2 separate regions of the Homo sapiens genome follow, and region 2 is linked to region 1. The links come from fine-mapping of genetic effects on gene expression. A gene starts in region 1. The other region holds a variant in brackets. All regions are shown on one strand. Distances are between the middles of the regions.

Region 1 (9,665 bases):
TTTCTTTCTTTATTTATTTTTGAGACAGAGTCTCACTGACACCCAGGCTGGAGTGCAGTGGTAAAAAAAAAAAAAAAAAAAAAAAAAAGCTCCAGATACAGTGGCTTACGCCTGTAATCCCAATATTTTGGGAGGCCAAGATGGGCAGATCACTTGAGGTCAGGAGTTCAAGACCAGCCTGGCCTACATGGTGAAATCCCATCTCTACCAAAAATATAAAAAATTAGCCGTGTGTGGTGACACGTGCCTGTAATCCCAGCTACTCGGAAGGCTGAGGCAGGAGTATTGCTTGAACTCGGGAGGTGGAGGTTGCAGTGAGCCGAGCTTGTGCTGCTGCACTCCAGCCTGCGTGAGAAAGCAAGACACTGTCTTAAAAAATAAAAAAAAAATTCACTCCCAATCTTAGTAGGCAATGTATAATAGTGTCCAAGAGCAAATTCTGAATGAAATGAGAGAGGAGAAAGAAGAAACCAGTCAGGCAGGCAGTTAAGGTGGGTCCTTGGTAAAACTCCTTCAAACAAAGAACAGCCTGAAAATTAAACTGCAGGCCCCAGATAAGTGACAGCCCGCATCCTGGAATGGAAATACCTACTCTAGGAACCCAGATGAACAAATACCACTCCCTTTTTGGACATATTTCACTCTCTTTGGCACACCTTAGTCTCTTAGTTTTCATCTATTTTACATATGCTTACCTTTCTGTGATTGGCCACAGCGGGAGTCTTCATTTACATAGGGTGAATCATCACTTCAGCCCCTGATTGGTTCCAGGCCAAGGTCCTGGCCCAAGCTTTCACTTCAGCCCCTGACTTGGTTCCAGGCCAAGTTGTTGAGCCAAGCCTTCACTTCTGCCTCCAACTGGTTCTTTACACTATCATACCTCTTTCTGAGTGGTGCTTTCTGCAAGATAGCCTGCAGGCCCGATCAGCACACTCCTCCCTTTCCCAGTCCATAAGCCACCCTCCTCACCCTCCCACTCAGCCTCATAGCTGGCAATCCTCTTTCAGGCCCCCTCTTTGCTGAGAGCTTTTCTGTTGCTTAATAAATCTGACTCTGGCTGGTCAGGAGTTTGAGACCAGCCTGGCCAACATGGTGAAACCCCGTCTGTACTAAAAATACAAAAAATTAGCCAGGTTCGGTGGCTCACACCTGTAATCCCAGCACTTTGAGAGGCCAAGACGGGCAGATCATGAGGTCAAGAGATTGAGACCGTCCTGGACAACATGGTGAAACACCATCTCTACTAAAAATACAAAAATTAGCTGGGCATGGTGGCAGGCGCCTGTAATCTCAGCTACCTGGGAGGCTGAGGCAGGAGAATTGTTTGTACCCAGGAGGTGGAGGTTGCAGTGAGCCAAGATTGTGCCACTGCACTCCAGCTTGGTAACAGAGTGAAACTCCATCGCCCCCCCGCCAAAAAAAAAACAAAAAGCAAAATATTGGCTGGGTGTGGTAGCAGGCACCTACAGTTCTAGCTACTTGGGAGGCTGAGGCAAGAGAATCGCTTGAACCCGGGAGGCGGAGGTTGCAGTGAGCCAAGATCATGCCACTGCACTCCAGTTCAGGTGACAGAGTGAGACTCCCCCATCTCAAAAAAAATAATAAAATAAATAAGTAAATAAATAAATAAATCTGACTGCCTTACTCACTCTCCAGTGTCTACACACCTTATTCTTCTTGGTCGTGGGACAAGAATACAGAGTCCACCAGCAGTTGAAGTGAAAATGCTGGAACACTCCCTCCCACTCTCCAAACAGCAAGAGTGAAAAAGCTGCAACAGGCCAGGCATGGTGGCTCACGCCTATAATCCCAGCACTTTTGGAAGCCAAGGTGGGTGGATCATTTGAGGTCAGGAGCTCAAGACTAGCTTGGCCAAAATGGTGAGACCCCATTTCTACTAAAAATACAAAAATTAGCCAGGTGTGGTGGCACACGCCTGTAATCCCAGCTACTCAGGAGGCTGAGGTAGGAAAATCACTTGAACCTGGGAGGCAGAGGTTGCAGTGAGCCAAGTGCAGTGGAGCCACTGCACTACAGCCTGGATGACAGAGTGAGACTCTGTCTAAAAAGGAAAAAAAAAAAAAGCTGCAACGCAAAGAGCCTAGGTGCAGATCCTGGCTCCATAGCTTACTAAATTATGATGTAATCTTGGGCAAATTATTAACCTTTCAATGCCTGTCTCCTCACCTGTAAAATGGGGATAATCATAGTATCTATCTGAGGCCGCACGCGGTAGCTCACGCCTGTAATCCCAGCACTTTGGGAGGCTGAGGCGGGCGGATCACGAGGTCAGGAGATAGAGACCATCCTGGCTAACATGGTGAAACCCCGTTTCTATTAAAAATACAAAAAAATTAGCCCGGTGTGGTGGCAGGCGCCTGTAGTCCCAGCTACTTGTGAGGCTGAGGCAGGAGAATCACTTGAACCTGGGAGGCAGAGCTTGCAGTGAGCCGAGATTGCGCCACTGCTCTCCAGCCTGGGTGACAGAGCAAGAATCCGTCTCGAAAAAAAAAAGAACGGGCCCCAACACATATTAGGCTCTGTATAAATACTTGCTGTTATATGATGCTTATCCGGACAATTTTTATTGTTACTGCCCAAGGCAAGGACCATACCTTATTCAGCTTTGTATCCCTAGCTCTTAACACAATGCCTGGCATAAATTAATAGTTTCCTCTTTCCTATCTCTAGCCTTTTCTTTCACTCAACTCTACCTTCTATAGTGCTGTCAAAATCATCTCTTTTACTAGGTACTATGTACTATGATACTTTCTCCCCCCTTACTAAAGCTTCCAGTTTTTCCCTGTTATCTGCAAATTTTTAAGCTAGATAACTTACCCAAAACTCTGTTTGCAACCAAAGTGCTCTAGGTTCTCCTTCATACCAAACAGTGGTGTTAGGGCTATCTTTCCATCAGTCTATATCCATATTTGGCTTGCTATTTATTTATTTATTTATTTAGAGATGGAGTTTCGCTCTTGTTGCCCAGGCTGGAGTGCAATGGCATGATCTCGGCTCACCCAACCTCCGCCTCCCAGGTTCAAGCAATTCTCCTGCCTCAGCCTGCCAAGTAGCTGGGATTACAGGCATGCACCACCACGACTGGCTAATTTTGTTTTGTTTTTTGTTTTGTTTTTTGTTTTTTGTTTTTAGTAGAGACGGGGTTTCTCCATGTTGGTCAGGCTGGTCTCAAACTGACCTCAGGTGATCTGCCCACCTCAGCCTCCCAAAGTGCTGGGATTATAGGCATGAGCCACCACACCAGCCGGCTTTTTTTTTGTTTTTTGTTTGTTTGTTTGTTTTGAGACAGGGTCTTACTCTGTCACCCAGGCTGCACGACAGAGTGGTGCAATCATAGCTCACTGCAGCCTCGAACTCATGGGTAATAGTGATCCTCCTGCTTCAGCCTCCCAAGTTGCTGGAACCACAGGCATGTACCACCACACCTGGCTGTGTGTGGTGTGTGTGTGTGTGTGTGTGTGTGTGTGTGTGTGTGTGTGTGTGTGTGTTTAGAGAGAGACAGAGTCTCACTTTGTTGCCCAGGCTGGTCTCAAACTCCTGGCCCCAAGCAATCCTCTTGCCTTTGCCTCCCAAAGTATTGAGATTATAGGCATGAGCCATCATGTCCAGCCCGTTATACCCATATTTATTTATGAGTATCTGCAAATATGTATACATGCAGTCTAAGGCAGTGCTCAAAACAATCAGCTTTGAGGCAGACTGCCTGCCTTTGGATCCTGATTCTAGCACTTTCTACATATATGACTAAGGACAAGTCCCTTCACCTCTCCACATTGGTTTCCTCATCTGTAAAATGGAGACAGTAACAGTACCTACTTCAGAGAGTTGCTGTGAGCATTACACGAGGTGTTTAGCATTTGGTATGGTGTCTGATACCTAATAAACACCAAATAAATTTTTGTTTGTTTTTGTTTGAGACGGAGTTTCGCTCTTGTTGCCAGGCTGTAGTGTAATGGCACAATCCTCCGCCTCCCCAGTTCAAGTGATTCTCCTGCCTCAGCCTCCCGAGTAGCTGGGATTACAGGCATGCGCCACCACGCCCGGCTAATCTTGTATTTTTAGTAGAGACGGGGTTTCTTCATGTTGGTCAAGCTGGTCTCGAACTCCCAACCTTAGGTGATCCGCCCACCTCAGCCTCCCAAAGTTTTGGGATTACAGGCGTGAGCCACCGCGCCTGGCCTAATAAACACCAAATAAATTTTAGCTGTTATTAGAAAACCTGGCCAGGTGCAGTGGCTCACACCTGTAATCCCAGCACTTTGGGAGGCCAAGGCAGGTGGATCACCTGAAGTCAGGAGTTTGAGACCAGCCTGACCAACATGGTGAAACTCCGTCTCTACTAAAAACACAAAAATTATCTGGGCGTGGTGATGCACGTCTGTAAACCCAGTTACTCGGGAGGGTGAGGCAGGAGAATCGCTTGAACCCAGGAGGCGGAGGTTGCAGTGAGCCAAGATCGTGCCATTGCACTCCAGCCTGGGCAACAGAGCGAGACTCCGTCTCAAAGAAAAAAAAAAAAGAAAGAAAGAAAGAAAAAAGAAAACCTCTTGCCAATATATCCTTATTGCCCCAACTCCACAATCTCCTGGGTTCCCCCAGCACTCATAGAAGCTGATAATAGGGAAAGGTAGGCTGTAAAGGGCAATGGTGATGAGCTCAGGCAGCACTACTGTCTTCTTTACAAAAGCACATTAATGATGAGCCTGGAGAACATATTAGATGTCAGGATGGCAAATACAGTTTTGGTTGTAACATGACCGCTGCGCAAAACAAAATACATCCATGTAAGAGGCTTTCAACCTGGAGTCCATGACCTCTCTGAAATTAGATGCAAAACTTGGTCTCTGTGTGCATTTTTCATGGTAGAGGGTCCATTGCTTTTGTCTGATTCATAACCTTAAAATGTCTTAAGTAAGAGGGTTAAGAACCCATGACCTATTCAGTACAATGTTCCCTGAGTGTAAAAAGTTCCTGTGGCATCCAGCACCCCCGTGGGAGTCCATCAAAATTCCAGGGTTCACCGACTGCAGAACTATGGGGATGCAAATGCATTTGCAACTCTTTGGAAGTAAAGTACACACGGGAAACCAAGAAATACTAAGAGGGAAAAAGCATTTTAGTTTAATGGGTACAACTGCTGAGGTTTTGAGGCCTCCATCAAGAAGGAAAAGAGAGCCCAGATTGCAGGTCTGTTGCGAGTAAGTGTGTCTGCAGGTTGTATTAGGCATGTGGTGATGGTGATGGGGGGTTATAGGAGCTTACAGTGAACTTCCATCACTCCTACCCATCATTGTCTAGTTATTTTATCATCCATTGATTCTTCTCTTCCGGCAGCTCTGAGGACCGTAGACTAAACTGAAACACAAAAGGGGAGGGCAAAAGAAAAGACAGTTCCAAAGGGAGCCGAGCGCCCGTTCTTTCATCCTGCGGTCCCTTTAAGAGAAGAACCTCTTGGGACCTGCAGTCCCAACCGACCCCAGTTTTAACCGAAACCCAACCCGGACTTCCCCCTCTTGACTCAAATAAGACCAACTTTGGATTTTCCCTCCCCTATTGACCAATCAGATTCTGTTACCAGGCAGACTTCAGCGGCCGCCGGTACGAGCCCGGCGCCTTCTGTCTCCGGGTGGCAGCAGTGACCAATGACAGAGCAGGCCGCCCGTGTATCTAGGCAGATCGCGGCTGTTACAACCATTCAGAAAAAGGAAAATAAAGCAACGCACGAGCCGGCTGGGCCAGGACCTTGGGGCTGGGCTGGAGTGAAGGTGGCTACGAGGTAGTTTCTCTTTCTCCCTTACCTTTATTGTTGCTTGTGTTGGAAGGCGACTGTTCAGAGGTAGGGAGGGGCAAGATGAGTTGGGAGGAGAGCAGAAAAAGATTGTAGCTGTATTTTCAACAGCTTCTTCACCCATGTGCACGTGCCCGGAATCTGGGACCCCATTCCCCTGCCGGGTTTCTGACGCCCAGCGCATGAGTTCCGCTACCCCGCCCCACCCCCGCTCCACTTTGCAGAAACCGGGGATTGAATGGAGGGGGAAGGGAAGGAGGTGGGGGCGCGCCTCAGGATGGGCTGTTGTGGGAGATGACGTAGGGGCCGGCGACGTGGGGAGGGGGAGCAGCGGGGGAAGTCGTGGCGAGATTAAGTAATGAGAACTTGGGCCCAGTTTTTTTTCCAAGCCTAGAAGGGCAGAATATGTTCGTATCCTTTCTGACCTCCCAGGCATATGCAATGGTGAGGAGTATTTTTGAGAATTAGAGAACTTTGTTTTGTGGCTGTTATTGTTGTTTTTGAGGGGGAGGAGGGCAGTATGGGGTCAGAGGCAGAAATGAAAATTTCTTGCTAACATGGATTCCCAATCCCCCTATCTCTTCCTTTACAGTTTTCCAGATTTAGGAGACTTCAGAAAGGTGGGGCAGATAGAATGGAGATGGCAAAGATCTCTTTGGGCATATATGGGCCTGGCGAAGTAATGGAATAATTTCTAATTTTCGGAGAAGGCAAGTGGTGAGAAAAAGACCACCGGGGAAATTCGGAGGCTTTGTTTCTGTTTCTCTGCCTTTCTGGGTAAAGAGATGAGGAGTGCCCTGGGGCCTTCTGGGGAAGGGAAGGCCAGTGTGAGTTACATCTTTATGCCTGTCCCTCTCAATTCTAGCCCTCATGCCGGGATGGCAGAAGATGAGCCTGATGCTAAGAGCCCCAAGACTGGGGGAAGGGCCCCCCCAGGTGGTGCTGAGGCTGGGGAACCTACCACCCTTCTTCAGAGGCTCCGAGGTACCATTTCGTAAGTACTCATCACATCTCCAAGTCCTGTCCAAGACCTGAGTATAGATCCCTGCAGCACTTCACTTTGGCTGTAGATGAACTGCCTCTCAGCAAGGGCATGGGAGCAGAGGGAGATTTTTGGCCATGGTAGCAATTCTTGAGCACCTGCTGGGCATTTCAGTCCTTTTCCCTCCCTAGCAGTCAGATAAAGAGACAGGGAAAATCTTGTGTGTGACCTCCAGCTTTCTCCTCTTCCCCACAGCAAGGCCGTGCAGAACAAAGTAGAGGGGATCCTGGTAAGTGTGTTGGGGAAGAGGGCAAGAGAGGGATGGAAATGCTGAGGGAGGAGGATGTGAGGATGATGGGCATCAACAAAACATTGATGTGGGAGAGGTAGGGTCCTCTGCCTTGTCAGAAGATAGTTGGCTTTGCAAACTTGCTGCCAGTTTGACTTTGTGCCTCTCACTTGATCTCTGTGAGCACTTGCATAGAAGCCCAGCAGAGATGAAGTCAGAGCTGATCCCCTCTACTTCCCTCCTCTCCATGGTAGCCTATAGGGCTCCTCAGAGCACCTAGCATCAAATAATTTCTTTCTTTTTTTTTTTTTTTTTTGAGATGGAGTCTCACTCTGTCGCCTAGGCTGGAGTGCAGTGGCGCAATCTCGGCTCACTGCAAGCTCCGCCTCCCAGGTTCACGCCATTCTCCTGCCTCAGCCTCCCAAGTAGCTGGGACTACAGGCGCCCGTCACCACACCCAGCTAATTTTTTTTTGTATTTTTAGTAGAAACGGGGTTTCACCATGTTAGCCAGGATGGTCTCGATCTCCTGACCTTGTGATCAGCCTGCCTTGGCCTTCCAAAGTGCTGGGATTGTAGGCGTGAGCCACCGTGCCCGGCCTTGTCAAATAATTTCTAAGGTCCTTTTTCAGTCTGACACCCTGTAAGTCAGCTAGACTTTGGTGTGGGGATCAGAGGGTCCTATATTGGGTCCTTCTTGGCCTTATTATTTCTCCTGCCTCTGTTCTCTCCTACCTCAGCAAGATGTACAGAAATTTTCTGACAATGACAAGCTGTATCTCTACCTTCAGCTCCCCTCAGGACCCACCACTGGAGACAAAAGGTAGGTTTGATAGTAGTTTTAGATGGCAGAGGTTCTGATTCTTAGAGAAAGGTTCACTGGGAAGGGGTGAGGTGAATAGGAATACTCGTAAATGCTGTCCTTGATGAAGAGGAAAGGTCCTCGCCCTGACTTGGTTTACCAGGGAAAGTTAGATTCTGGGTGAACTAAATTTGGTCCAGCACTACTGAAGTGGTAGTTTGGGAAGAACCAGGACAACTGTTAGGGTCTTAGTAATGCTTGTTCCTTTTGTTTCTGTAGCTCAGAGCCAAGTACACTGAGCAATGAGGAGTACATGTATGCCTATAGGTGGATCCGCAACCACCTGGAAGAGCACACTGACACCTGTCTGCCAAAGCAAAGTGTTTATGATGCCTATCGGTGGGTGGAGGGGTGGGTGGTGGGATGAGTGGATTGGTGGGCATAGGACCCCCTCACCCATGAAGAGCTTCCTGCCTTGATAAAGCCTGCCTTCTTAAAGGGTTCCTCACACTTGATCCCTAGGGACTCTTCGAGCCTACCCATGGCCTCCTTCTCTGAGTATCTTCCCACTCTGCTCCCCTCTCACTCAGGAAGTACTGTGAGAGTCTTGCCTGTTGCCGCCCACTCAGCACAGCCAACTTTGGCAAGATCATCAGAGAGATCTTCCCTGACATCAAAGCTCGAAGGCTTGGTGGCCGGGGCCAGTCCAAGTATCCTTGACTAGAGAGGTTGGGGGTGGAGGACCTGGGAGGAAGACTTAGGATGTGGAGAGCAAGGAGTGGAACAGCTTAACTTGCTCGAGGGGCTTGGAGATCGCCATGTGTTGGCTGCTCTTTAACTTGCATCAGATATTGCTACAGTGGCATAAGGAGGAAGACCTTGGTGTCTATGCCACCCCTGCCTGGACTTGACCTAAAGGGTTCTGAGAGTGTAAGTACCAAATCACCTTCCAATTCCACTCTTCTCTCCCAGGTAAAAGTCAGAGGTCTTTGGGGCATGTTTTGAGGGCTAACAGCCTCAGTCATTATGTACATAGCTTCTAGGTATGATGTTCCCTTCTGCCAACCCTGTAGCTGAGGCAGAGGATGAAGAGAACTTGTGGGCTTCTGCAATGGGATAGGTAGAGGCTACTCCCATCCCCAGTCTGGTCTCAGCTTTGGTCAATAGTCTTTGATCTCTGACAAGAGAGGAGGCAAGGGTTCTTTAATTTGGAGTGTGATTGGGCATGTCCTTCCCCACTTCAGCCAGAAATGGGCCCAGAAGTAACCCCAGCACCTCGAGATGAACTGGTGGAGGCAGCGTGTGCCCTGACCTGTGACTGGGCAGAGCGGATCCTGAAACGGTCCTTCAGTTCCATCGTTGAGGTCGCCCGCTTCCTGCTACAGCAGCATCTCATCTCTGCCCGATCTGCACATGCCCATGTGCTTAAGGCCATGGGGCTCGCTGGTGTGTTGACCCTCTCTTATGTCTCAGCAACCCTGAGCCACTTTCAGCTTCAGTGGCCCTCCCACACACTAGAATAGAGACACCTTGGATTTGCCCCCTCTTCCTGGAGACCCTTCTAAGACATGCTTTAGCACCCCATTTCCTGTCTCTACCAGTCAGTCAATCAGAATTGCCTCACTCCCCTATTCCTCAGTTTCCTCCTCACCTTCACTCTATTACCTTTTTGGTACCTCTGCAGAAGAGGACGAACATGCACCTCGGGAACGGTCATCTAAACCAAAGAATGGTTTAGAGAACCCAGAGGGTGGAGCCCACAAGAAGCCAGAGAGACTGGCCCA
Region 2 (9,665 bases), 80 kb after region 1:
ACGAGGTCAGGAGATGGAGATCATCCTGGCTAACACAGTGAAACCCTGTCTCTACTAAAAATACAAAAAATTAGCCAGGCGTGGTGGCGGCCACCTGTAGTCCCAGCTACTCGGGAGGCTGAGGCAGGAGAATGGCATTGTGTCCGGAATTGGTGGGTTCTTGGTCTCACTGACTTCAAGAATGAAGCCGCAGACCTTCGCGGTGAGTGTTACAGTTCTTAAAGTCAGCGTGTCCAGAGTTTGTTCCTTCTGATGTTCGGATGTGTTTGGAGTTTCTTCCTTCTGGTGGGTTCGTGGTCTTGGGGGCTCAGGAGTGAGGCCACGGACCTTCGCGGTGAGTGTTACAGCTCTTAAGGCGGCGCATCTGGAGTTGTTCGTTCCTCCCGGTGGGTTCGTGGTCTCGCTGGCTTCAGGAGTGAAGCTGCAGACCTTCGTGGTGAGTGTTACACCTCATAAAGGCAGTGTGGACCCAAAGAGTGAGCAGCAGCAAGATTTATTGCAAAGAGCGAAAGAACAAAGCTTCTACAGTAGGGGACCCAAGCGGGTTGCCCGCCACCTTTAATTTTCACGACCACCTTGTGAGTTAGAGGAATTAGGTAATTGATCTTAAAGAAGTAAAGAGCTTCTGGTTATATGTGGTGAATTGAGCTTATCTCTGCTCACCCTAGAAATCACGTCAAAATAAGAGTAAAGAAGTGAAAAAGGGCAGGCATGGTGGCACGTGCCTGTAGTCCCAGCTACTGGGGAGGCTAAGGTAGGAGGATCACCTGAGCCTGGGAGGCCAAGACTGCAGTGAGCCATGATGGCCCAACTGCGCTGCAGCCTGGGCAAAAAAGTGACCCTGTCTGAAAAATAAAAAATAGCCGGGCGCGGTGGCTCATGCCTGTAATCCCAGCACTTTGGGAGGCCGAGGCGGGTGGATCATGAGGTCAGGAGATCGAGACCATCCTGGCTAACACAGTGAAACCCCGTCTCTACTAAAAATACAAAAAATTAGCCAGGCGTGGTGGCAGGCGCCTGTAGTCCCAGCTACTCAAGAGGCTGAGGCAGGAGAATAGCGTGAACCCGGGAGGCGGAGCTTGCAGTGAGCCGAGATCGTACCACTGCACTCCAGCCTGGGTGACAGAGCGAGACTCCGTCTCAAAAATAAATAAATAAACAAATAAATAAATAAATAATAAGACATGAAAAAGCACAAGGACAAAGAGAAGACTACAGCAAATGAGAGACTGATTTAGTTTGATACAGATGTGCAGATAACTGACACAGGATTTCTGCACAGGATGTGCAGAAAGCCAGATGTGCAGGATAACTGACTTAAGTTTGGGGATTTTTCCATTCTACTCATAATGTAGGGAGTGAAGAGCCAACAAAGAACAAAATAATCAGTCTTAGATCCCAAAAAGGCTCAAAAACAGAAAAGTCCTTGGGCCTCTGAAAGCAGGGGAAGGAAGATTGGAAAATTCCTTGTTGGAGATAATGACTGACTCAGGAGAAGAAGCCAACAGGAACTCAAATGCTGCTCCCTCCCTCCTTACTCCCAGGGAGGCCCACATATGACGGTCTCTGCTCACCCCACCCATGGAGTTTCCAGGCAGCTCTCTCTTAAGTGGGGACAGACAGCCAAGGATCATCTGAGAGTTGAAGGCAGCCTCCAACATAAAAGAAGCCAAAAGAGGAGGAGCCCAGAGAGTAACAGATAATGAAGGGACCGGAAGAAAATATCCTAAAACTGCAATGACTATACTTAGAAATATAAGATTGGCTGGGCGTGGTGGTTCACACCTGTAATCCCAGCACTTTGGGAGGTTGAGGCAGGTAGATCATGAGGACAGGAGTTCAAGACCAACTTGGCCAAGATGGTGAAACCCTGTCTATACTAAAAATACAAAAATTAGCTGGGCGTGGTGGCACATGCCTGTAGTCCCAGCTACTCGGGAGGCTGAGGCAGGAGAATTGCTTGAACCCCGGAGGCAGAGGTTGCAGTAAGCTGAGATCATGCCACTGCACTCCAGCCTGGGTGACAGAAAAAGACTCTGTATCAAAAAAAAAAAAAAAAAAAAAGAAAAGAAATAGAAGATATTGCACCCATGATACAAAAACAGGATGCTTTTTTTGTTTGTTTTTTGGGACAGTCTTGCTCTGTTGCCCAGGCTAGAGTACAGTAACGTGATCACTGCTCATTGCAGCCTGGACCCCTTAGCTCAAGTGATACTCCCACCTCAGCCTCATGAGTAGCTAGAACTATAGGTGCACTGCACCACAGCCAGCTAACTTTTTTTGTTTTTTTGTTTTTAATTAAGAAAATGTGGGGGAATGGGGTCTTGCCATGTTCCCCAGACTGGTCTTGAACTCCTGGGCTCAAGTTATCCTCCCGCCTTGGCCTCCCAAAGTGCTGGGATTACAAGCATGAGCTATCACACCCAGCCCTGGTTTCTTAATAATACACCCTGAAAACTAGAATACAGGCCATGGGCAAGGTGGCTCATGCCTGTAATCTCAGCACTTTGGGAGGCCGAGGTGGGCAGATCACTTAGGGTCAGGAGTTCCAGACCAGCCTGGGCAACGTGGTGAAACACCATCTCTACAAAAAATACAAAAACCACCATCTCTACAAAAAATACAAAAACCAGATGGGTGTTGTGGCATGCACCTGTAGTCCTAGACAGTTGAGATAGTGAGGCAAGAGGACTGCTTGAGCCTCAGAGGTAGCGGCGGCAGTCAGCCTGAGCCGTGTTCCTGCCACTGCATTGCAGCCTGGGTGACAAAGTGAGACCCTGTCTCAACACCAACAAGCATTCCTCTGGATGCTGAAACATTGAGAAAAAGAAAAAACAAACAAGAAGAAAACTGAAAACAATGAGGCAATGCCTTCAAAATTCTAAAGAAACATTATTTTAAATGTAGAATTCTATACTCTGCCAAGATGTTTTCAGACACACAAAAAATAAACTTGCTGTGCTCCTTTCTCAGAAAGCTACTGGATGACAAATTCTACTAAAACAGAGGATGAAACAAAGGAAAACCAAAATATGGCATCCAGGAAATAAGTGAGTCCCAGGGTGAAGGTGCAGGGAAGGGCCAGAACTAAAACTTTGCAGCAGGTCGAGGACAACCAATCCACATTGGAGCAAGCTCAGGAGGCCATCACGTGAGGTTAACAGGTTACCTACTGTATTTGACCAATGAGAGGAGGTTTCTATTTCTCATGGTAAAAGAATAAAAACAAAAACAATGGGCCGGGCGTGGTGGCTCAAGCCTGTAATCCCAGCACTTTGGGAGGTGGTGGCTCAAGCCTGTAATCCCAGCACTTTGGGAGGCCGAGGCGGGCGGATCACAAGGTCAGATCCAGACCATCCTGGCTAACACGGTGAAACCCCATCTCTACTAAAAATCCAAAAAATTAGCCGGGCGTGGTGGCGGGCGCCTGTAGTCCCAGCTACTCGGGAGGCTGAGGCAGGAGAATGGCGTGAACCCGGGAGGCGGAGCTTGCAGTGAGCCAAGATCATGCCACTGCACTCCAGCCTGGGTGACAGAGCAAGACTCCGTCTCAAAAAAAAAAAAAAAAAAAAAAATGCTAGGTGTGGTGGTTCAGGCCTATAATTCCAGCACTTTGGGAGGCTGAGGTGGGCAGATTGCTTGAGCTCACGACCAGTCTAGGTAACCTGGCGAAACCCCGTCTCTACAAAAAAAATATAAAAATTAGTCAGGCGTTGTAATCCCAGCACTTCAGGAGGCCGAGGCAGGTAGATCACGAGGTCAGGAGTTCAAGACCAGCCTGGCCAAGATGATGAAACCGTCTCTACCAAAAATAAAAAAATTAGACGGGTGTGGTGGCACATGCCTGTAATCCCAGCTACTTGGGAGGCTAAGGCAGGAGAATCGCTTGAACCCAGGAGGCGGAGGTTGCAGTGAGCAGAGATCGTGCCATTGCACTCTAGCCTGGGCAACAAGAGCGAAACTCTGCCTCGAAAACAAAAAAAAAACTAAATTATAATATTCTATAGTAAACAGTATAGATAATGGCTAAAATGGAAAAATTAAGAAATAGCCATATAAGTTCATTCTTTGGGAATAAGGAAGTAAGCACAGGAAGAGCTAGCTAAAGAAGTTAAATTGATTACTTCTGGGAGTAGACCTCAAGAGTGCAGAGGGGTAGGGCAGGACCCTACCAATTTTTATTACAAATCTAACTTTTAAAACTATATAGGCCAGGCACGGTGGCTCACACCTATAATCCCAGCACTTTGGGAGGCCGAGGTGGGAGGATCACTTGAGCCCAGGAGTTCAAGACCAGCCTGGGAAACATAGACCGCATATCTATAAAAAAAATTAAAAATTAGCCAGGCATGGTGGTACATACCTATAGTCCCAGCTACTTGCGAGGCTGAGGCATGAGAACTGCTTGAGCCTGGGGGGCAGAGGTTGCAGTGAGCCAAGACAGTGCCACTGCACTCCAGCCTGTGCGACAGACTCCATCTCAAAAAAAAAAAAAAAAAATTAGCTGGGCGTGGTAGTGTGTGCCTTAGTCCCAGCTATGCAGGAGGCTGAGGCAGGAGGATCCTTTAGGCTAGGAGGTTGAGGCTACAGTGAGCTATGATCACACCACTGCACCCCAGCCTGGGTGACAGAGCACAGACTTTGTTTAAAATAAATAAAAATATATATATAT[A/T]TTTTTTAATTTTTTATTTTTTGAGAGTCTCCCTCTGTCGCCCAGGCTGGAATGCAGTGGCATGATCTCAGCTCACTGCAACCTCCGCCTCCTGGGTTCAAGCAATTCTCCTGCCTCAGCCTCCTGAGTAGCTGGAATTACAGGCGTGTGCCACCACACCCGGCTAATTTTTTTTCTATTTTTAGTAGAGACGGGGTTTCACCATATTGGTCAGGCTGGTCTCAAACTCCTGACCTTGTGATCTGCCCACCTCGGCCTCCCAAAGTGCTGGGATTACAGGTGTGAGCCACCGCACCTGGCTGAAAAAAAAAAAAACTTTAAAAAAAATTATAAAGGGAATAGATGTTCCTTGTAAAATAATATTTAAACCGTATAATATAAAGTCTCAAGGTAAGGTTACTTGTAGAGTGGATTTTATGCATGTACACTGAGAGGAAAACGCCAGCAGGGTGTTTAGGACAGCAGAGACTCAGGAGACAGCATAACTGATGCAGGGAGGTGCTGGCAGGAGGGAGGGAGCCAGAACTTCCTGCCTCACGGCCTTGACTCTCTGTAAAGATGTCAGGCTTCTGTTGAGAGTGATCGGGGAGTAGAGGAAGGTATAGTAGTTGCTACAAGGAACTGACTTGCAGGGCTGAGCAGAGTCACTGAAGGCAGCTGACCAATGGGAAACTACTGTTTGGTGGTGATTCAACTCCTGGCGAGACAGGTCTGAGACAAGTTTGGATTTTGATCCTGGTTCTGCCTCTTCATTAGCTAAATATCCTTGGCCAAATAACCTAAACTTGCTGAACCTCAGAAGTCCACATGAAAAAACTGAAAAGGTTGAGTATCATTCCATGCTTGGGGTTCAGCTGTGTGAGTGCAGAGTAAAAGTTATTGGCAAGAAGGTGGTTTAAATAAGGTCTTCGTTCATTAGAAATGGAAACCTGGCTCCTGGGCCTGTAATCCCAGCACGTTAGGAGGCCCAGACAGGTGGAAACAGAGACATAGAGAACTCAACAAGGAAGGTTCTCCTTCAGGCCAGGGACTCCTCCCCTCTCTCACACTCAAAACCATCAATATTTGAAGCAAAAAAGGAAAAAAAGTTGCCAAGCTTTATTTAGGCTGTAATGGTTACAGATAACACACATCTAACCCTATATTCCGTGCTTCCCATGCAGTCCCCTAAGCAGACTCAGCTACCCTTTCCCTCCAGTCTCACTTCTTGTCTTCCTCCTTCTTGTCCTTCTTGCCGTCCTTGGTGGCCTGGGAGGCCAGGGAGCCCATAGCATTTCGAATGGCTTCATTGTTGGGATCCACACCTGGGAGGTTCTCTAGGACACTCTGAAGGAACTCGGGGTCCTGCATCACGTCGTAATCATCCTCCTCCTGCAAACAGGCAGTGTGAGCTCAAGGGAGGGTATGGAGCGGCAGGAAGTAAGCAGGTGTTAAGGACAGGAGCATGCCGCTGCCAGAGGCCCCCTGCCTTCTGACTGTGTGGGGATCTGGGCACCTCTGGTCGACGTAAGGAAAGGACAAGTCAGCAAAATCCTTTATACAGCATGAATGCAGTTATTACTAACCAAATAGAGGGGCCTGCTGAGAACTCTGTTAATTGAGCTCTGAGGAGAAAAACAGATGCCATCACATTGAGGTTTCCTGCTCTCAAGACACCCAGTTCTCCTTTTTCTTTTTCCCAGACCCGCTTTTTTCCCTCCTGGGAAGACATCCTAGAGAACTGCCCAGGCTGCTCCCACCAGCAAGAAAGGAAAATTACAGAACAAGAGGACATTTCTCCAACTCTGACCATTAGCATTGCTACCTTAGCAAGGTTTACATGTAAGAAATGCAAATCCATGTGTTTCCCTCTGCTCCTCAAAGGACTTAGCTATGGTAGAAATACTCCCAGCCCCAGAGGGATGAGGATCTAAATTCAAGGACTTTAAACCTGATGGGGGCAGGGTTGGGTCTCACCTTGGCTGGCTCAGATGTGTCCATAGCTGAGCTGGCATCAATGTCTGCTGATTCCGCCTGGCCAAACTCTGAGGAAGAGAGGTCAGTCTGTTCAGTTACACTTCCTCACCCCAACCTCTGCCTAGGCACCACCCAGGCTCTGGCTCACCTGCTCCCTGCAGGGACATCTGCATGGCATAAGCAATCTGCTCTTCCTCAGTCATACTGCTTAGGTCAGGAAGCCCAGTGCGGCCAAACTCTTGCTGGCTGATGGTCATCTTCAGCAGGGCATCGTCTGAGTCTGGGAAAAGGAAAAGAGGAGCAGGGTAGAATTGGTGCCATATCCACACAGGCCAGCCTCCAAGGCCATTCCTAGCCCAGCCCTCCCACATATTCCTACCCTGTCAGACCTCCACACTCTCCCTGCAGTGCCTACACCCAGCTTTCAATGTTTAGCATCCCGCAGTCCCAGGACTTCGGATTCCACCTCTTTCACCTTCAGTCCCAGTCGTAGCAATCCCGGCCTCAGCAGCAGAAGCTGCAGCTGCCCGCCGGGCCTCCTCCTCCTGCCGCTGCCGCTGCTCTTCCATAGATACACGAAGGGCCTGGTGAAGGGCAGGGCATAATCAGGGCTCCCCTGCCCTCACTCCTACAGGGAGCTGGGAAAGTCAGTTGGGGTGTGGGAAAGGAACATAAAGGGGCAGCTTCTGGTTTATCACACAGAGAAGAAGCTGGAGGGATAAGCAGTGGTACGGGATTAAAAAGTAAGGACTTGGGAGAAGCCTCGGTTTTCATCAGAAGTGAACAAGAAAGCATCTGACACTGGTGCCCCTAGAGATCAGACAGCATTATAGGGAAGAGGCGGCAAAAGGAGGTCTTGGAAAATGAGTGATTGGTAGTGTCTAGGACTATCCAGCCTGATAGAAGCTCTGTGATGTGTGTGCCAGAAGAGAACAAAGAGGGACCTTTGGACTCTACCTGGGGTCAACATTTGCTCACCAAGGCCAGCTCAGGATCAGCACTGGGATCTACTCCAAATTCAAAGTCACTGGCACCAAGACCCAGCATGGCACCACCTTCACCAGCCAAAATCGGAGAACTGATGAGAGCATCAGCCAAACTGGGCCCAGGAGGCACTGTCACCAGATGAGAACCGGTTCCATCTTTGCCATTCAACGTGTTTACAAAGGCTGTCAGCTTTTCTGTGTTCACCTCCTGGGGAGGAAAGAACACATGATGCCCTTCTTCAGGCCTTGCTCCCTGTTCTTTCCCATTTCTGCACTACTCTGCCACAGTACCCGCACTCCTCAGGGTTAAGGACCATTCTGTTTATGACCAAATTAAGTCAATGCCCTCCAATCAGTCCCTACTCACCTCTTCCCCAAAATTGATAATGTCAACATTTACTTTCTCCTTCTTGAGGCGTTTAGCCAGTTTCACCAGCTGGGAAGAAGGGGAGAAAAATCAAGAAATCTGTTCCATACTCGAGGGGGGGAAAGGACCCGCCGCATAAAAGCATACAGAAATCTATTGACCTCCCCAAGGTCCTCCAACAGAATCACTGAATTCTCCACATTCACCTTTCCCCAAAGTGATGAGCCTGATGCCTCTGCCAGGTTCTCCTGAGGGCTGGAAGACCTCAGTCCCAAACATGGGCTCCCCACATTCCCCAGCTGCCACTTGGACTCACATCCTTCTCATTGTCCTCCACTGGGCTTCCCACAAAGGCAATGATGCGCATCTTGTGATTCTTGCCTTGTCGGTGCTTCAGAGCCAGCTTGTAAAGGGAGAGGAAGTTCTCAGAGTTAACCAGAGGAATCACTCAGCTCTTTCCTCTGTCACTCGGTTCCCTTTTTCTTACAGTTTCTTTGTACCTGAAGTACACCATCTACCATCACGTTCACACAAGATTTAACACCCCCACCTCCTCCCTTTTTGCTATGACTCTCTGTGCATAAAGAAGGGAGGTTAATTCTCTTTCTCTCTTTTTTTTTTTTTGAGATGGAGTCTCGCTCTGTCGCCCAGTCTGGAGTGCAGTGGCGTGATCTCAGTTCACTGCAACCTCCACCTCCCGGGTTCCAGCGATTATCCTGCCTCAGCCTTCCTAGTACTGGCTAATTTTTATATTTTCAGTAGAGATGGGGTTTCACCACGTTGGCCAGATTGGTCTCGAACTCGTGACGTCAGGTGATCTGCCCGTGTTAGCCTCCCAAAGTGCTGGGATTACAGGTGTGAGCCACCGCGCCCGGCCTTTTTTTTTTTTTTTTTAGAGAAACAGGGTCTCCCTATGTGCCCAGGCTGGTCTTGAACTGCTAGCCTTCAGCAATCCTCCTCCCCTGGCCTCCCAAAGTGATGGGATTACAGGCATGAACTACCACGCCCAGCCTTAATTCTCAATTCTAGGGATTTTTCCCTTCACAACCCTCAACTACCCTGGGATTCATCCCCCATATCCTTTCTACTCCAAGTTAGCTTTCTCTTGCTCTGGTCCTAGCTCAGGATTCCAGGGGAGAAATGAGTATGATGGAGGCAGGACCTCAGAGCAGGGAGGAAAGGTCCAGGGAACCCAGTAGGACTCACATGGGCCACGCGGATGCCCGTGCAGAAGGTGATCTTGCCCTTGGGTTGGACAGTATGTAGCTTGGACAGGATACGGCCAGTGTCTGGGGTGAGTGTGGTCAGCACTTCACAGTCACTGGGATGTAGGAAAAGCATTTCAGTGAATTCAGGTCAGCACAAGTACCTCTAAACTGTGTCTAACTTTTATTTATTTATTTTTTAGACGGAGTCTCACTCTGTCACCCAGGCTGGAGTGCGTGGCGTGATCTCGGGTCACTGCAAGCTCCGCCTCCCGGGTTCACGCCATTCTCCTGCCTCAGACTCCCAAGTAGCTGGGACTACGGGCACCCACTACCACGCCTGGCTAATTTTTTGTATTTTTTTTAGTAGAGACGGGGTTTCACTGTGTTAGCCAGGATGGTCTCGATCTCCTGACCTCGTAATCCGCCCACCTTGGCCTTCCAAAGTGCTGGGATTACAGGCGTGAGCCACCGCACCT

The links. PIP is the estimated chance that this variant, and not a neighbour inherited with it, causes the effect.
Region 2: its variant is fine-mapped to the expression of RFX5 in whole blood (TOPMed, PIP 0.96).

Annotation. Positions count from the first base shown.
Region 1 is chr1:151,343,343-151,353,007 of GRCh38, reverse strand. RFX5 (regulatory factor X5) reads left to right here and starts at 5,756. Exons shown (of 11, transcript NM_001025603.2): 1 at 5,756-5,797; 2 at 6,402-6,519; 3 at 6,675-6,803; 4 at 7,047-7,080; 5 at 7,820-7,902; 6 at 8,161-8,280; 7 at 8,472-8,591; 8 at 8,730-8,811; 9 at 9,126-9,327; 10 at 9,566-9,665. The coding sequence starts at 6,688. It overlaps RFX5-AS1 (RFX5 antisense RNA 1), which reads right to left and starts at 5,998. Exons shown (of 2, transcript NR_131972.1): 1 at 5,820-5,998; 2 at 5,117-5,376. RefSeq lists a silencer at 1,608-1,808 and enhancers at 5,342-5,691, 5,658-6,240, 5,295-6,494, 6,834-6,923, 9,589-9,665.
Region 2 is chr1:151,263,551-151,273,215 of GRCh38, reverse strand. It overlaps PSMD4 (proteasome 26S subunit ubiquitin receptor, non-ATPase 4), which reads right to left. Exons shown (of 10, transcript NM_002810.4): 3 at 9,188-9,302; 4 at 8,298-8,384; 5 at 7,982-8,050; 6 at 7,607-7,822; 7 at 7,104-7,212; 8 at 6,777-6,908; 9 at 6,629-6,696; 10 at 5,737-6,043. The coding sequence ends at 5,873. Among named protein-coding and RNA genes, the nearest start is that of ZNF687-AS1, 14 kb to the left of the region's middle. RefSeq lists an enhancer at 7,389-7,683 and a silencer at 7,389-7,683. The variant A/T (reference allele first, on the strand shown) is at 4,673.